Homo sapiens: one gene and its partners. The protein of the gene in region 1 purifies or fractionates together with the protein of each later gene. This does not show direct contact. Each region holds a gene or a part of one and is shown in the gene's direction. Other genes may lie near its edges.

Region 1 (2,367 bases):
CTTCCGTGCTTTTTGTTCCTTTGCCCTGAAAGTGCAAGGAACTGTACTGGCGGCAGGTGGAGACCCGGACCTTGGCACTCCCTCCTGCCTGCCTGACCCTCTGCCTCTGAGGACAGCAGTGCCGGGATAGGAGCTGCAGACCTGGGTTCCTGTCCCAGAGGAGGGACCTGCTGATTCAGGGAGCTGAGCGGAGGGATGAGGTCCCTTGCAGCCTTGGAGACCACTCAGTGGACCTGCAGGAGGATGGGAAGTGGGAGCTGCTGCTGTTCCTCAGGTTTTCTCCGGGTGCTTTGCCAGGAGTGCACCAAGAATTGGAGGCAGGGGCGAGAATTGTCACTAAGGGATCCCACCGCTGGTGGCCTCTGTCCCTGTTCACACTTCTCCGGTTCTGTGCTGCATCTTCCAATACGTGCAGTCCACCCTGCCCTGCATCCCTGACCTCTGTTTGCAATCCATTTTGCACTACGGAAAGGAGAAGGGCATGGCCTCAGGAGGGGTGTGTGTGTGTGTGTGTGTGTGTGTATGTGTGTGTGTATGTGTGTGTGTGTGTGTGTGAGAAAGAGGGAGAGAGCCAGGGCATGCAAGGGACCTGGCACAGACAGTACCACAAAATTGGTGACACTAAAAGCTGGCGAACCACCTCTTCAGAGGACACATTCTGTGATTTAGAAAATGCCTCAAGTGAGAGGGGCCTGGCAAAAGAATGGAGACAGGGAGAGTGGCGGTGTTTATGCGTCAGTTTGCTGGGCGTTTCATTCTTGGGAACTGAGGGAGCTGAGAATTGCTGTAGTCATCTCAGAGGCTGCCCCTGTTCTTGCTACACAGCCTCATGCCGTTTACTGTAAGGACGTCCTGGATATCGAGCAGTTCTCGGTGGTGAAAGGGATCTACCTGGACACCGCAGATGAAGACTTCTATGCTCGGTTTGCTACCGGGTGTGTCTCCATCCCCTGGCAGAATGAGGTACTGCCCTTCCAGCACAGCCGCTTTACGTTAGTTCCAACAGTGACCCAGGGAAAAGGGTGTGTGTGTGTCCGTGTGTGTGTGTGTGTCTGTGTGTATTTGGGAGATAAAATTATATAAGACGGCTGGGCGCAGTGGCTCACGCCTGTAATCCCAGCACTTTGGGAGGCTGAGGCAGGCAGATCATGAGGTCAGGAGTTCGAGACCAGCCTGGCCAACATAGTGAAACCCTGTCTCTACTAAAAGTACAAAAATTAGCCAGGCATGGTGGCAGGCACCTGTAGTCCCAGCTAGTAGGGATGCTGAGGCAGGAGAATCGCTTGAACCTGGGAGGCAGAAGTTGCAGTGAGCTGAGATTGCGCCACTGTACTCCACCTTGGGCGACAGAACGAGACTTCGTCTCACCCAAAAAAAAAAAAAAAAAGATTGTATAAGACTTTTGACCACAGGACTAGACCATGGGCAAGCCAAGGACCATATCAGCAGCTGTCCAGAAGCACAGCGGCTGTCCCTGGTCCCAATGACAGGAAGTGGACAGGAGGTAGCTATTTTGGGTCTGATGGGAGCTTGCCTGCCACCCCGAGCCCCACTCCCTAAGCAGGGCTGGCTGGCAGCCAGGGTTCCCATGGTAGTTCCCTGCTTTGGGAGTACACTCAGAGACAAGGGGAGAGGAGACCACATTACTTATTCCAAGAAGAGGTCAGGAAGCAGGGAAGGAGGAACCCAGAAAAGGGGCCCCACAGTGGGTGCAGGAGCTCTGAGGTGCCCCGCACGGGGCTGGGCAGGAGCTGCTGGCACTGGGAGACACCCACTGACCTGGCAGTTTCTCTGCGGCTTCTCTGTCCTGTTATTCTGTGCATGCAGATGATCGAATCTGGGTGTTTCAAAGACATCAACAAAAGTGAAAGTGAGGAAGCTTTGCCATTAGATCTAGACAAGAACATACATACCCCGGTTTCCAGACCAAACAGAGGCTTCTTCTATAGACTCTTCAGAAGAGGGGTAAAAAGACTTAAAAACTAATATATGTGTGTGTATGTGAAAAAAAAAAAAACATACTGACTGCCAAGGTGAAAACCTGGTACTTTTTCTGTTTGCGATGGCTCCTACAGGCAGTTTTATACAGTCTGAGAGCCACATGGTGCTAGGTGGAGGCCAGCCAGAACAATGAGAACACCCTCGCAGTGAGGTTTGTTGCTGGGATGAAGACTGTTCTGATCCAAAACAGGACTACCTTCCAGCATTTACAAACAGGTTCCCGTGTCGCTGACAAAATAGTTTACACTGGGCTCAGAAATCGGCATCCTGTGGAACCTTCGTCAGATGGCACTCACAGTGCATCTCTCCCTGCTCTGGCTCTTAGACTCACCTCCTTCGCCCGCTGCACGGGGAAAGTGGATTCCT
Region 2 (3,522 bases), on another chromosome or scaffold:
TGTTAGAATAAAGGGTGAAAATGTATATAGCAAAATATTTTAAAGATTGGATTAATCTTGGACTTCTATATTATAGTTACTATGAAAGTGATTTATATAATATTTGAAAAAATGTCTTTCATCTTTGGAAGAACTATAAATGTACATCTATTTCTTTAGTTTTAATTCTTTAATACTATTTAGTCTTGAAGCTAAGTACTCAGCCAGTATTTCAGGAAGTTAGAAATAAAGCTTATGGGTGTTAAAATAGGCACATAATACAGAGTCATGTACACTGCTAGGTAGAAACTTCTGAATGTGCTTCCATTACAAAATTTTGGTCTTTATCTAATGATGTGCTGATCCATAATGTTTGTATACTTATAAATGTGTTAATAACTTAAATAACTTTTAAAAAGTGAATCTTTTACTGACTCAATTGGTTTTCCCCTAAAATAATTTCTTCTGGTATTTGCAGTCTTGTAGGCAGTTAACAGACTTTAATAACTTTAAAATGTTTAGTAGCACCTTGAAAAAAGGCTTCAACTTTATATTTTATGTAAGATATACTTTGGGAAGCAAATTATTTTGATAAATTATGAGATAAAGATATGTTCAGACCAAATTTTAAATTATAGATAAAAGTAGCACTTAAAGGAAAAGATTCATTTGTATAGAATTACTGAAGAATATTTGATGCTAGTATCAACTAAAAAAGAAACTTTTGAAAATTAAAAATGGGCCACAACATGTAGAAGTCATTAGGCAGCTGAAAATTTAGGATGTATGATCCATGTTAAATATCACAAATATTGTCTACTCATTAAATGTTTAGTTGTGTTTAGAAAACCTGTCAAACGATCATTTTGGCTCTTCTTTAGTATAGTCCAGCATCTGCCTTATGTGTTAAAAAACACATGGAATACCAACATCCTCCGTGTTCTTTTTAGTTTGTTGCAGTGTATTTTTAGATTACAAAAAAAGCAAAGTTTTATCAGTAGTCTCATTAATCAGTAAAACATTTAAAGTAGTTCGTTTAAAAGAAATTTTATTTCTAGAATGGAATGATTTGGATGTGACCTGATAAATACAGTTTGTTATTGTGGTCTCATTAAATTAATCAGCTTTTTCACACTGGGGTAAAGAAACAGATGATGATACTAGGGAATGGAAACAAAATTGGAAACCTGGGTTATTTGGGGATTTATATTGTACTCTGCACAGTTGCCCTTTTTTTTAGGCGTGTTCCCTGGAAAAGAGGGACGGATGAACCTGGAAGTAAGTAAAAGACATTCTAGGTGTGTAGCATCAAGGCAGTTAATATCCAAGCATCAGCTTTCTCTTTATACATCTACACTGCATGGCCTGCACCAAATAAGGAACTGAACCAGGGGTATGTTTTTACCTCCACAGCTGCCTCCTTCCATCAGAGCACCTTGATGAACTTAATGTCTAGTCACACGTCATTGGCATGTTTTCTCCCCAGCATTTAATTACAAAGCTGGGAAACAAAAGATGATAGATACAGTTTTACTACTGCATACAAACATTTCTTTTTTACATTCAGTATTAACTTATCAATATAGGAGATGTGCATACTATTTCCTGAGCTACTGAAGTTTTTTTACTCTCTCTGTTGATAAGTTAATGACTTTTGCTATATTATATATTTATATATATATATATATATATATTTGGTAAGAGAACATAAAAACCTAAAATTTAGTAACAAGGGGAAAATAAAGCATGATTTGGAGATATGTTTCAAATTTTTAAAAAATGACCATAAAGATCAACAGTACAACTTAATACTGTTTGCTATATGTACATGGATGCCCTTTAATAAGAGGCATTGAATATTTCTTAACCTGTAAAAATAACTGTTGACCATGCTAATGTATATATACTTGTGCATCTTAGGACATTAAGTGGTTTGCTGCTTTGATGGAAATTATGGTTCAGTGGGTTGGATACAAGAGAGATGACTGTTCACAGAATAACCTGTGAACTTTCACCCCTCTGTATGGAAACTTGTTTCAGGGCCAAATCCTTGTAGCTGTCTTCTTGCCCCGGTCAGTGCCAGCCGTACTATTCACAACACTGCTGCTACCGAGGCCTAGGTATGTAAACATTTAAGGAGTTTTTTAAAAGTCTTTTAACATCAAGCTAGGTTTTAAAAGAATTCAAATTCATTTTGGCATACTTACAGGATATTTTATGTGATTGTTTTCTATTTGTTACTGTGTAAATTTCAAGAGTTTTTTTTTTTTTTTCTGCTTTAGGGATTTTCTAAGTAAAATATTTATACTTGCTTTATAGTAGAATGGGGAAGAAAACTTTGGATGACAACAGTATGCTTCTTCAGTGTCTAAACTATTTCTAAGTGATTTCTGGGCTTTATTCATAAACTAGGTACACCTGGGACAATTAATATCATTGATTGTTTTAACATTGCCTTCTTTTTATTTTGCAAGCTAAGAAGAGATACCAGTGAACCTAAATAGTGGACGAAAACAGGAGTGTTCTAATTTTTTTTTTTTGAGGGGGGCACGAGGGCTACTGTTTCAAAACTGCCATTTACTTGTCTTATTTGACTTCCAAAATACTATTACGTTAATGTGCAAATAATCAGAACATACACACTACAGTATGTATAAAGTATAGAGGAATTTACATTTAATTGCTATAACAGATCTAGAAGTAAAGTAAGATTCCTCTTTTTAGAAAGTAAACAATGAATCTGTCACCAAGTTCTAACTGTAAAATGGGGACATTTTACCTTTCTTTCTTTGGATAGGATCAGTTCTTAAGAGCAGCCCCGGTAACTGGAGGAATGGGAGCCGTTTTGATGAGAAAAATGGGCTGGAGAGAAGGAGAAGGATTAGGAAAAAACAAAGAAGGCAATAAGGAACCCATCCTAGTTGATTTTAAGACAGACCGAAAAGGTAACAAGTTCTTTTTTGGAATGTTTATTAACGTCTCCTTTAACATTACCTTTAATATATCCTTTTGAACCCAGTGATACTGAACTGAAGGCACTTCTTGTATATATACAGGTATTTGTCAGAAAAAACATTAACCCCTTTTGGGGTTCACAGAGCAGCTTATTTTTATATAACTATGGATAGAGACACCAGTTTGAACTTTTAAAAGGCACCTTTTGTTATGCTAGTTGCTAAATATGGAAATGTGTATATATCTAATTTTATTATTACACCTCCAAATTCAACTGGATTTCATGTTTAGAAAACAGGATTTCCATTTTATTTTCTCTTGACAAGGAACCATCCTTTTTTCTAGAGTTTAGTTTATTTTTTGTTAGATATTTTAGCACATCTTCATTATTTCCTATTACAATACTGGTTTAGTCTAGATTTCATAAACCCTGTTTGCTTTTTTCTTCCAAGCTCAGTAGTTAAGTTGGGTTAGAGTATAGTAGACCAGCTGCTGACAATAATGTTACTTCTTCCTGTTGCCTTGTGTTAAGGCATCTTGGAACTGTTAGCATTGACTGTATTTTCCTTTTACCTTCAGATACCTGGG
Region 3 (3,522 bases), on another chromosome or scaffold:
GAGTTCGAGACCAGCCTGGGCAACATGGTAAGACCCTGTCTGTACAGAAAATATAAAAATTAGCTGGATGTGGTGACACATACCTGTAGTCCCAGCTACTTGGGAGGCTGAGGTGGGGGAATCACTTGAGCCCAGGAGGCAGAGGTTGCAGGGAGCCGAGATCTTACCACTGCACTCCAGCCTGGGCGACAGAGTGAGACCTTGTCTGGGAAAAAAAAAATTCTTAAATAGTGACACAACTTTTAAAGGAAACTTTTCAATGATACTTTTAATATTTGTAAAATTAATATATACGCAGTGTAAAAATTCAGAAAGTGGAAAAATATAAGGAGAAAAAAACTACCCCGACCCTGTGACCCCACAAAACATTTTAGATTTCATTTTGTTCCTTTCCCCACTATGCAGGCATTCACTGGATCCTTGCTGACACAGTGCGCTTGTGTCTGCTTTAGCTAGAATAGGGACAGAAAGATGGGGGGGTGTGAGTCCTTAGAGGATGTGGAGAAGAGAGAGCTGGGTGCCGAGCTGGAGGTGAGCTTGGTGTGTTCCAGGAATAGCAGGAGTGCAATGTGGGGAGCAAGGGGCCGGCTCCCTGGGCTGGGGCCAGGAGGTTGGGTTCTGTTGTGAGTGTGATGGGTGTGTGAGCAGAGTGATGATAATATTTATATTTTAAGAGGATCACTTTGACTGCTGGGTGGATAATTCACTCTAAGGGGGCAAAGGTGGAAGCAAGTGAGCAGCTCCTCAGGAGACTTCCTGTAATGGGATGGTAGCTGTGGAGTGATCATATTTGGGATATGCTTTTAGAAATAGAATCAACAGGATTTGCTGATCTAAATAATTACTTAATAGTCTGAAAATGTCTTTATTTCTCTTACGCTTCTATTCCTGAACTCTTGGATCATCAGTCAGATATAGATATTCTGGTCTGAAGTGTTTTTCCTCTGCCCACTTTGAAGGTATTCTTTCATTATTGATGAGAAGTCTGATGTTAATCCATTTCTTACTCCTTTGAAGATGTGTCTGGTAGCTTTTAGAATTTTAAAAAATCCTGCATGTTCTGAAATTTTGCAATAATGTGTCTAGGTGTGGAACTTAAAAATTTACCTGGATTAACACTTGATGATCCTTCAATCTGAGGACTTTTCCTTTTTTTAAAATTTATTATTTTTTTCAAAGCTAGTGACAGACTTAGAATTTTTTTTTTGAGAAGGATCTTGCTGTATTGTCCAGGCTGGTCGCAAACTCCTGGGCTCAAGTGATCCACCTCAGCCCCTGAAAGTGTTGCAATTACAGGTGTGAGCCACCACGCAGGGCTGACTTTTTTTTAATGATAGAAAAATTTTACTATTTTTTCTTCATAATTTCTAACTGTTCTTTTGTTGTGTTTGATTTTCTAGCTTGCATTTAAATTGTCCTTTAGTATCTCCATTCTGCTATTTAGCCCATTTAAAAAAATTCTCAGTGTTTAGGTTCACAGTGATTTCCTCTGTGCTACCATTTTGCCTTTGTGCTGGCCGCCACCATCCTGTGTCTGTGTATGTCTCCGCTTCTAGAATTTCACGTAAATGCAGTCATACAGTGTTCAGTCAAAAGTTTTGAGACTTGTTTCTTTCACTTAGTATAACGCGTTTGAGATGCATTTACAGTGCCATATCAATAGTTCACCTTTTCATTGCAGAGTAGTGTTCCATTGTATGATGAACCAGTTTATCCATTTTACCACTGAGGGACATTTGGAGTGCTTCCGTTTTTGGCAGTTATGGATAATGCTGCTATGAACATTCATGGACAGGTTTTTTATGTGAACTTAAGTTAGTTTTCTAGAATAAACACCTGCAAGTGGGGTTGTTGGGCCTCAGGGCAGGTGCATGCTCATTGTTTTCAGAAGTTGCCAGACTCTTTTCCAGTATGGCTGTGGCTGCTTTGCCGCTGCACCAGCAGTGTGGGAGAGCTCCAGGGATGCCATGGCTCCACCCGCACACAGCAGTGTGGGAGAGCTCCAGGGATGCCATGGCTCCACCCCCACTCAGCAGTGTGGGAGAGCTCCAGGGATGCCATGGCTCCACCCGCACACAGCAGTGTGGGAGAGCTCCAGGGATGCCGTGGCCCCCCGGCACTCAGCAGTGTGGGAGAGCTCCAGGGATGCCGTGGCCCCCTGACACTCAGCAGTGTGCGAGAGCTCCGGGGATGCCGTGGCCCCGCGGGCACTCAGCAGTGTGGGAGAGCTGCAGGGATGCCGTGGCCCCGCTGGCACTCAGCAGTGTGCGAGAGCCCCAGGGATGCCGTGGCCCCGCGGGCATTCAGCAGTGTGGGAGAGCTCCAGGGATGCCGTGGCCCCACTGTCACTCAGCAGTGTGGGAGAGCTCCAGGGATGCCGTGGCCCCACCTGCACTCAGCAGTGTTAGTGGTTTTTAATCTTAGCTATTCTAGCAAGTGTGTTGTGATATCTCAGTGTGGTTTTAATTTTAATTTTCCTAGTGATGTTGAACATCTTTGTGTGTGTGTGTGTGTTTGCCATTCATATGTCTTCTTGGTGAATTATCTGTTCAAAACTTTTGCTTATGTCTTTGTGTTTTGCACATATTTTTTCTCAGTATTTTCATTCTCTTAACAGTGTCTTTTGCAGAGCAAAAGTTTTTAATCTTGATGAAGGCCAATGTATGAATTTCTAAAAAAATGGGTCATCATTTTGGTGTCATGTAGGAACTCTGCCAAACTCAAAGTTGCAAAGATTTCTTTGTTTTGTTTTATTTCTAAGAGGGGCTTATGTTTTACTCTTCTATTTAATTTTTGCTGGGGTGATCAGACCCAACACCAGGTCGTGGGGGTGACGAAGTCTGGTGGAGTCGAAGGAATGAGAAAAGACAGTTTGAGAGCGAAAGTGGGTCCAGGGGGCCATCGCTAAGTATGGAGGCTGTGAAGGCCCTGAGCTCTGGAAGCCCAGACTATTTATTGGTGATCAAACAAAGAAACAGGTGGTGAGAATGTGGGGGTCGAAAGGTCGCGTTGCATTAAGCACATGATTTACAGGTGTGATGATTTAGCATCTGCTCTGCTACTTGAGATAATGGAGAGCAGGTTCTTTTTTTTTTTTTTTTTTTTTTTTTTTTGAGACGGAGTCTCACTCTTTCGCCCAAGCTGGACTGCAGTGGCGCTATCCCGGCTCACTGCAAGCTCCGCCTCTTGGGTTCATGCCATTCTCCTGCCTCAGCCTCCCGAGTAGCTGGGATTACAGGCGCCCACCACCACGCCCGGCTAATTTTTTGTATTTTTAGTAGAGACGGGGTTTCACCGTGTTAGCCAGGATGGTCTCGATCTCCTGACCTCGTGATCCGCCCGCCTCGGCCTCCCAAAGTGCTGGGATTACAGGCGTGAGCCACCGCGCCCGGCCGAGAGCAGGTTCTTTTAACTCAAGATACAATCGATCCTGGGAGAGCAAGGAGCAAGGAGCCAGCAAGTCTAGACACATTCCAGAGCCACGAGTCCTGGATTCCATCCAAGCCACGAGGGGTTTTATGC
Region 4 (3,522 bases), on another chromosome or scaffold:
CTTGTAAAAACCATGTTTGGTTCTCTGTAAATAACTATTGGTAATAAGAACATGTCGTTCTTCAGTACCCTCATCTCCCTACTTGTAACAGGCTGAAAGAAGTCCTAGCTGTAAAATATGTTCTGTAACATAAGAGAATGATATTTTGCATCAATTCTTAGGTGTGTCGTTTGGACTGGTGATGAGCGGGTCTTCTTTTATAATCCCACCACTCGTCTTTCTATGTGGGACCGACCTGATGATCTGATTGGCAGGGCAGATGTTGACAAAATTATTCAGGAGCCCCCTCATAAAAAAGGAATGGAGGAATTGAAGAAACTAAGTAAGTTTTAAATTAGGAATTTATCCACTGATTTTAACATTCTTTTCATATTTTGATAGAAAATGTGGAAGGCATTTAGAAACCCTTTATTTTTCAAAGAATATAAGAAGCATTCGAAAAAAATAGACTGCTATCCTAGTTTGAATGAAATAATAGAGATTAAAAATATGGAGAGAATTTGGATAAGATTGTGCTTTGTAAAATATGTGTGTCTTTAATTTATTGTCCTACTCAAGATTTTCAGTTAGTCCAAGATATGGTTGGTAGTGTTGCTGCTTGCTTAGTGCTTATCAATACTACTAAAATGCTCCTCGGTGGGCCTTTTAGCACCTTTTGTGACTAGTAATATATTTCTTGAAATAATACATTACAAATTTTTTAAAAATACAAAATCTCAATCTTTTGAATTAGATGGTAAGCTCCTTATATTCCTGAGACTAGACACCTAAACCTTACTAAGAGATTATCTTTTAATCTATCTCATATTCAGAGGGCATACTAATATATTGAGTACAGATATTTGTACGTAATTTTTGTTGTGTATTTCTTATTGGTAATTTGCCCTTGTGTTGATATGATTGTGTTTTTATAGAACTGTGGCCCGCAAGTGGTATAGAAGCAAGATAAATGAATTATTTAATGCTTCTAATGAAATAAATCCTAGTGTGTATCATTTATAGTCATTGAGACATTTTCATGCATTATATATATGCTGAATTATAAGTAATTTCTGAGTCAGTGCCGCTTTGCCTATCTAGTGCTGAAGGTACTAGGCTCACCTTCAGCAATACTTGTTTTATAGGTATGATAATAATACTTTATAACTATGGTATTGAATGATGTTGAAACAATATGTGATTTTCTTTTGTTTTTCGTGAATTTGTTTTTAAATATTTGATTCATTCATTTGATAAATACATTAACGTGCATTGTTAAAAGGTACTGTAAATCCTGAATCAAGAAAGCTTTATTTTATATATTTGTAAATTTAAGGTTTGGGCAAGAAACATTTCAAAATGAATTAAATTTAATGTAAAGGGAGGATAAATAGAGGAAGTGTAGAATTATGCTTTGTTTAATGTTTTATAAAGGGATGAATATTAAGAGGTGAATATATTATGTAAACAGTAATTTTTAAAAAGAAAAGTTTGTGAAATATATGCAAATGACTTTGTAACAATATTTGAAATGTTTTTGCCAGGGCACCCAACTCCGACAATGCTGTCGATCCAAAAGTGGCAATTCTCTATGAGTGCAAGTGAGTGAACTAACCATAAATTGCAGCTTCTTTTTAATACTATTAAAGCAAGTGTTCTGGTAGTGATTAGCAGAAGGATTCATTCCTAAATATTTTAATTAAATTTTGTCTTATAGTTAAAGAGGAACAAGAATTAATGGAAGAAATTAATGAAGATGAGCCTGTTAAAGCAAAAAAACGGAAGTAAGTAATACATACGATTTGATTGAGGTAGATTATATCTTTTAAAAGTCGATTTGGTAATAATTTGTGATTGGAAGGGACAGGTAATGTGAATGTTGTTAGGAGGCATGATTGCTCTCTTAGGCCTGATAATAAATAGCTTTGTTTTTCATTGTAGAAAATGTGTCCCTTCTTTTGCTAGATTTGTAGAAGATTTGGGTATTCATATATGTATTATGACTCCAAATGATAGTTTTGGAATTAATTCTTTTTGGAAATTTATTAGGTCTCAATTTTATGAAAAGTTAGTTTCCTCCCTCATTTAGACCCCAATGGATACCATTCCAGAGATCTCATAAAAACAGACACAGACTTCTCCCTCTTTATATGGTTATCTTACGACTTACCTAGTCCTTGAGTCTGGTCATTAACTCCTTGGTGAGGAGAGAACCCATAAGCTTAGGAAGTGCTCTGCGAGAAAGAGACTGCTAAGAAGTAGAGGCATTAGCTTGGCCAGTGCTCTAGAGTTGGGTAAAATGTAAATGTTATGGCGGGGGGAAGGATGGGGTAGAGGGTATGCATGTATGGGGAATGGGACCATTATTTAGCAGCAAAAAGGAAAGTTTGAAGACATTAACAGGAACTGGTTAATTGTAGTCCTTATCTGAAAAGGACAGATTGAATGCAGCCAAATTATGGCAAAGAAATCAGTAGGACAACCCCTATAAAGGGTAGTTCTTTTAAAAAAAATTTCTTTATTGGCAACAACATAAAAGATATGAAAGAATCACTCATAATTTATCAGCGTAACATAGCTATTCTCATTTTTGCAATTGACTTTTTAGTTCTTGACCAAATGTAATTTTTATTAGTTGTGATTAACTGATTTTGTGCTTTTTTTTTAAAAAAAAAAAACCTAGAATAAGACATTTGTTTTGTTAATTATTATAAATGACTGTATTCATTCTGTTTATGTACCATAATTTTGGATGTTCCTACGATGTTAAACTTTTAGGTTGTTTTTAATTGTTTGTTCTTATAGACAACTCTGTAAGGTTTTTAACTGCTTTTATCAGGAGAATGTCAAAGAAGTCCTTTATGTGGATTGCCCGAGCTTCTCTATTTAGGTACAAAGCTAAAAGCCTGTTTTTCCTGGCTTAGTTTTTCTTTTATTTCCTTTATTGAGATAGATAGTGATAGTTTGTATTGTGACATTTTCATTTAGTATAGTTCTATAAAGGTTATTTGTTTTTATTAGTTACTTCTTGGATGTCTTTTAACTCTAACTATTTAAATAGTTTTAAAATTATTATTATAAGAGGGTATATTGTTTGGCAAATTGCTTTTACCTGTTTGTTTTGTGCATATCTTAGGTCACAGACTATCTCGCTAAGTTCCTGCAGGTCACGGACTATGTCTTCTATTTCTTTTGATTCATTGCCTAAGTTGCTAAGTACCTCTCACTTGCATTTGTGGGTTAGCCTTAGTTCCATTTAAATCTCTGGGGCTACCTACAGTTTCCTGTATAGCATGCTTTTGAATTTCCACATGTTCTGTTTTCCTAATTCCCTTAAGTTTGTATAGGGAATAAGAGCCAATTTTTAAAATATACTTAGCAGATCATATTTAAGAAGGAAGATCTGCTAAAATACACCCAGATATTATTGAATTACATACTTTTTTGGATTATTTACGTGAATGGGCCTTTTTCATAGTGCATATATTTGAGAGGTGCCGTGATTCCATGTTTACAATTTCACTTGAGTACCACACAGAAACA
Region 5 (3,522 bases), on another chromosome or scaffold:
CAATGTCATGTTGGTGGCTTTGGCAGCAAAATGTCTTACTGGCCTGGCTGTTGGGCTAAGGAAGAAATTTGGACAATATGCAGGACATGTAAGTAACACTCCTTTTTAGATACAGATCAACAAAATTTATCAAAAATGGTAGGCCTAGTTTGCTGTTTGCTTTAAAACAACTCCTTGGCATAGATGTGTATATACTGTACAAAGTAAATTTCTCTCTGTTTTGTTAATATTCAGCATAGATATATCTTAGAAATTTCAGTAGATGTCAGTTGTAACAAAATTTATAGGCCTTATGTAGAAAGTCAGGCACTAGGCCTAAAGTACTTAGTTGAGTTTATTTATTTGCTTATTACTTATTTACTTACTAGTATCTTGCTTTGTTCTTACAACATTATACACATCATAACAAGATGAAACAAAACTTGTAACGACCAGGACCAGAATGAAAATGAGAGTCGGAAAGGCAATGTAAAACTATAAATGTAAAACTGTGAGGTTAATATATAAAATGTGTTTTACATTGTTTTCCTATTTTAATATATAATTTACTTACATATTTGAGACATTTTATATAGGTTACAATGTTATATATTTTATATAGGTTATCTCCGTTTTACTTATTCAAAGAAAATCTGACTGGAGACATTTGTTGACTTACTATTTGTATAAGTTTGTTTCCAATCAAATTTGGTAATAATTTTAATTAAGATGTTTTCTTTAACTGTGGCATCTGTCCTTTGGCCTCTAAATCCGGTCTGCATTACTAAGAATGGCTCAGCATCCTAAAAATTGACCTTATTGATCTTTAGAGTTTAGCTTGCTAGCCCCTTCATCATTTGATTCCCTAGACTGACTTAGGAGTTTCCTAATAGTCCCTAGTCATGTGTCCATTTTATATTGTGAAGCTAATACCTAGCCTCACATGAGCTATGGTATTTGGAGCTTGCTTACTCATAGCATTAAAAATAATCTCAGAGAACTTAACTGAAGAAAAAGAAGACACTACCAAATAAAAATAAATCATGACTGGCTTATTACTAGGGAAATAAAAATAAGGGTCTGTAAAACCCTTAGACATATACATCATAAATTGAAATAAAATTAAAATCTATTTTTATAGCAATCAATATTATATAATATCGATGTGTATATGCCATTTTGATCAATTTTATATTACTTAGGATATTTTACACTTTTATATTGGGAATAATTTTTCAAGATAAAAAACAATTTTTTCCTACACCACTTAAATATCAGTTCAGAGAATAATTTTAGTTTTTTTTTTTTGAGACAGGGTCTCACTTTGTCACCCAGGCTGGAGTGCAGTGGCACCATCTCAGTTCACTGCAGCCTTAACCTCCTAGGCGCAGGTGATCCTCCCACCTCAGTCTCCTGAGTAGCTGGGACTTCAGGCACACCCCACACCATGCTTGAGTACTTTTTGTATTTTTGGTAGAGATGGGGTTTTGCCACCTTGCCCAGGCTGGTCTCGAAATCCTGAGCTCAAGCTATCTGCCTGCCTCAGCCTCCCAAAGTGCTGGGATTACAGGCTTGAGCCACCACACCCGGCCTAAAATTCATTTTAATTTACCAAATTATGGTTGGATAATTAACTGGCTTTCCAGTTTGAGTTCTGATTCTGGCTTTGTTTCAGTTTGTTGTCCTGGTTAAAGAATGTCTCTATTGCTCTGTAGTTTGGGGTCTCCCCCACCTTAATACTGTAATATATGCGGTGTTTAGTATCAAGCATGTTACTGACTTGGCTTTATTTTCTTTAAATGTTTACAAACTTTTTGGCAATATTTATAAAAGTGAATGTTAGCTTTATAGACATTAAAATATCTTGATTTTCAAGTTTATAACTAGTATTAAAAAGTCTTGTATTTTTCCATGGGAACCATAGTCCTTGAACTATACCAAGTAGTCTATAACCACTTCTGTGAAATCTTGAAAACAATTATTTCTTGTTTTTGGATGCCATTGAGCTTTGCTGTGTCCTTTGGACCTTAGAAATTTTCTTCCCCAGCCTGGGCAACATGGAGAAACCCCCGTCTCGACAAAAAATAAAATAAAAAATTATATTTACAGGGAAATGGTCAAGAAATTAAGAATTAAAAAAAAAAATAGCAGGTGTGGTGACATATACCTGAGGCCTACCTACTCGGGAGGCTGAGATGAGAGGATTACTTGAGCCCAGGAGGCCGAGGCTTCAGTGAGCCATGTTCATCCCACTGCACTCCCACGTGGGTGACAGAGCAGAGGCGGCAAATAGGTTGAGAAGCACTGCCATAGTGGGAGAGAATGAGAATTCTTCATTGTTCCGGCATAAGATACGATGTCCTTCATGAAAGGAAATGACTTTTTATTCCACTTAAATGTTTGCTTTATTGGTTTGTTTTGGTGGAGACAAGGTGGTTTTTTAGAAAGTAAGTTTTATTGAGATAAAACTTGCATACTATAAAATTTACCCTCTTAAAGTGATTTTAGAATATTCACAATGTTACATAACCATCAGCACTATCTAATTCCAGAACATCTTCATCACCCCAAAAAGAAACCCCTTGCCCATTAACAGTCTCTCCCCATGCTGCTCCCTGCCCTTGACTCTAGCAACCACTAATCTACTTTTTTGTCTCTGGATTTAACATTTCATGTAAATGGAGTCATACAATACATGGTCTTTGTGACTGCTTTTTTTTTTTTTTTGGAAGACAGGGTCTTGCTGTGTTGCCCAGGCTACAATACAGTGATGCAGTCGTAGCTCACTGCAGCTTTGACCTCCTGGGTTCAAGTAATCCTCCCACCTCAGCCTCCCAAGTAGCTGGGATCATAGGCACATACCACCACACCTGGCTAATTTTTTTTTGTTTGTTTTAGTAGAGACAAGATCTCACTCTGTTGCCCAGGCTGGTCTTGAACTCCTTGCCTCAAGCAACCCACCTGCCTCAGCCTCCCAAAGTGCTGGGATTACAGGCATGAGTCACTGTGCCCAGCCTGTGACTGGCTTTTTTTTTAACTTAGCATACTATTTTTAAGGTTCAGCCATGTTCTAGGATATATCAATATATCATTCCTCTTTGTTGCTGAATAATGTGCTAGCCATTCACTTTTACAGGTTGTGCCAACCATCTTGGAGAAATTCAAAGAGAAGAAACCTCAAGTGGTACAAGCCCTGCAGGAGGCAATTGATGCAATCTTCCTTACTGTAAGTTGACAGCATGAGTTTGTAGTTTTATCTGAAGTAAAGTTTGTAAATATAATATTTTGATTGTTCTTTACAATTGAAAAAAGCTCATTAACCACATTTTCTTTCTAAAGACCACACTACAGAACATCAGTGAGGATGTTTTAGCAGTAATGGATAATAAAAATCCAACCATCAAGCAGCAGACATCTCTTTTTATTGCAAGAAGTTTCCGCCACTGCACTGCTTCTACCCTGCCAAAGAGCTTGCTAAAGCCCTTTTGTGCTGCACTACTTAAGGTACAGACTCTCTTTGAAGTTGGGGGAATATTTTATACC

The links.
Region 2: the proteins of GRK4 (region 1) and SON purify together in Homo sapiens (affinity purification with mass spectrometry; one large-scale study listed by BioGRID and IntAct). This does not show direct contact.
Region 3: the proteins of GRK4 (region 1) and TUBGCP3 purify together in Homo sapiens (affinity purification with mass spectrometry; one large-scale study listed by BioGRID and IntAct). This does not show direct contact.
Region 4: the proteins of GRK4 (region 1) and TCERG1 purify together in Homo sapiens (affinity purification with mass spectrometry; one large-scale study listed by BioGRID and IntAct). This does not show direct contact.
Region 5: the proteins of GRK4 (region 1) and CKAP5 purify together in Homo sapiens (affinity purification with mass spectrometry; one large-scale study listed by BioGRID and IntAct). This does not show direct contact.

What each region holds. Positions count from the first base shown.
Region 1 is NC_000004.12:3,036,549-3,038,915, forward strand, and holds part of GRK4 (G protein-coupled receptor kinase 4), read left to right. Parts: intron 1-825; coding exon 826-963; intron 964-1,827; coding exon 1,828-1,965; intron 1,966-2,075; coding exon of another isoform or gene 2,076-2,111; exon of another isoform or gene 2,112-2,367. UniProt on the Homo sapiens protein: Specifically phosphorylates the activated forms of G protein-coupled receptors. GRK4-alpha can phosphorylate rhodopsin and its activity is inhibited by calmodulin; the other three isoforms do not phosphorylate rhodopsin and do not interact with calmodulin.
Region 2 is NC_000021.9:33,570,532-33,574,053, forward strand, and holds part of SON (protein SON), read left to right. Parts: intron 1-2,019; exon of another isoform or gene 2,020-2,099; intron 2,100-2,776; coding exon 2,777-2,924; intron 2,925-3,522. UniProt on the Homo sapiens protein: RNA-binding protein that acts as a mRNA splicing cofactor by promoting efficient splicing of transcripts that possess weak splice sites.
Region 3 is NC_000013.11:112,578,150-112,581,671, reverse strand, and holds part of TUBGCP3 (gamma-tubulin complex component 3), read left to right. Parts: intron 1-3,522. UniProt on the Homo sapiens protein: Component of the gamma-tubulin ring complex (gTuRC) which mediates microtubule nucleation.
Region 4 is NC_000005.10:146,478,332-146,481,853, forward strand, and holds part of TCERG1 (transcription elongation regulator 1), read left to right. Parts: intron 1-161; coding exon 162-322; intron 323-1,523; coding exon 1,524-1,580; intron 1,581-1,696; coding exon 1,697-1,763; exon of another isoform or gene 1,764-2,818; coding exon 2,819-2,869; exon of another isoform or gene 2,870-3,115; coding exon of another isoform or gene 3,116-3,239; exon of another isoform or gene 3,240-3,522. UniProt on the Homo sapiens protein: Transcription factor that binds RNA polymerase II and inhibits the elongation of transcripts from target promoters. Regulates transcription elongation in a TATA box-dependent manner.
Region 5 is NC_000011.10:46,797,766-46,801,287, reverse strand, and holds part of CKAP5 (cytoskeleton-associated protein 5), read left to right. Parts: coding exon 1-88; intron 89-3,115; coding exon 3,116-3,205; intron 3,206-3,318; coding exon 3,319-3,483; intron 3,484-3,522. UniProt on the Homo sapiens protein: Binds to the plus end of microtubules and regulates microtubule dynamics and microtubule organization. Acts as a processive microtubule polymerase. Promotes cytoplasmic microtubule nucleation and elongation. Plays a major role in organizing spindle poles.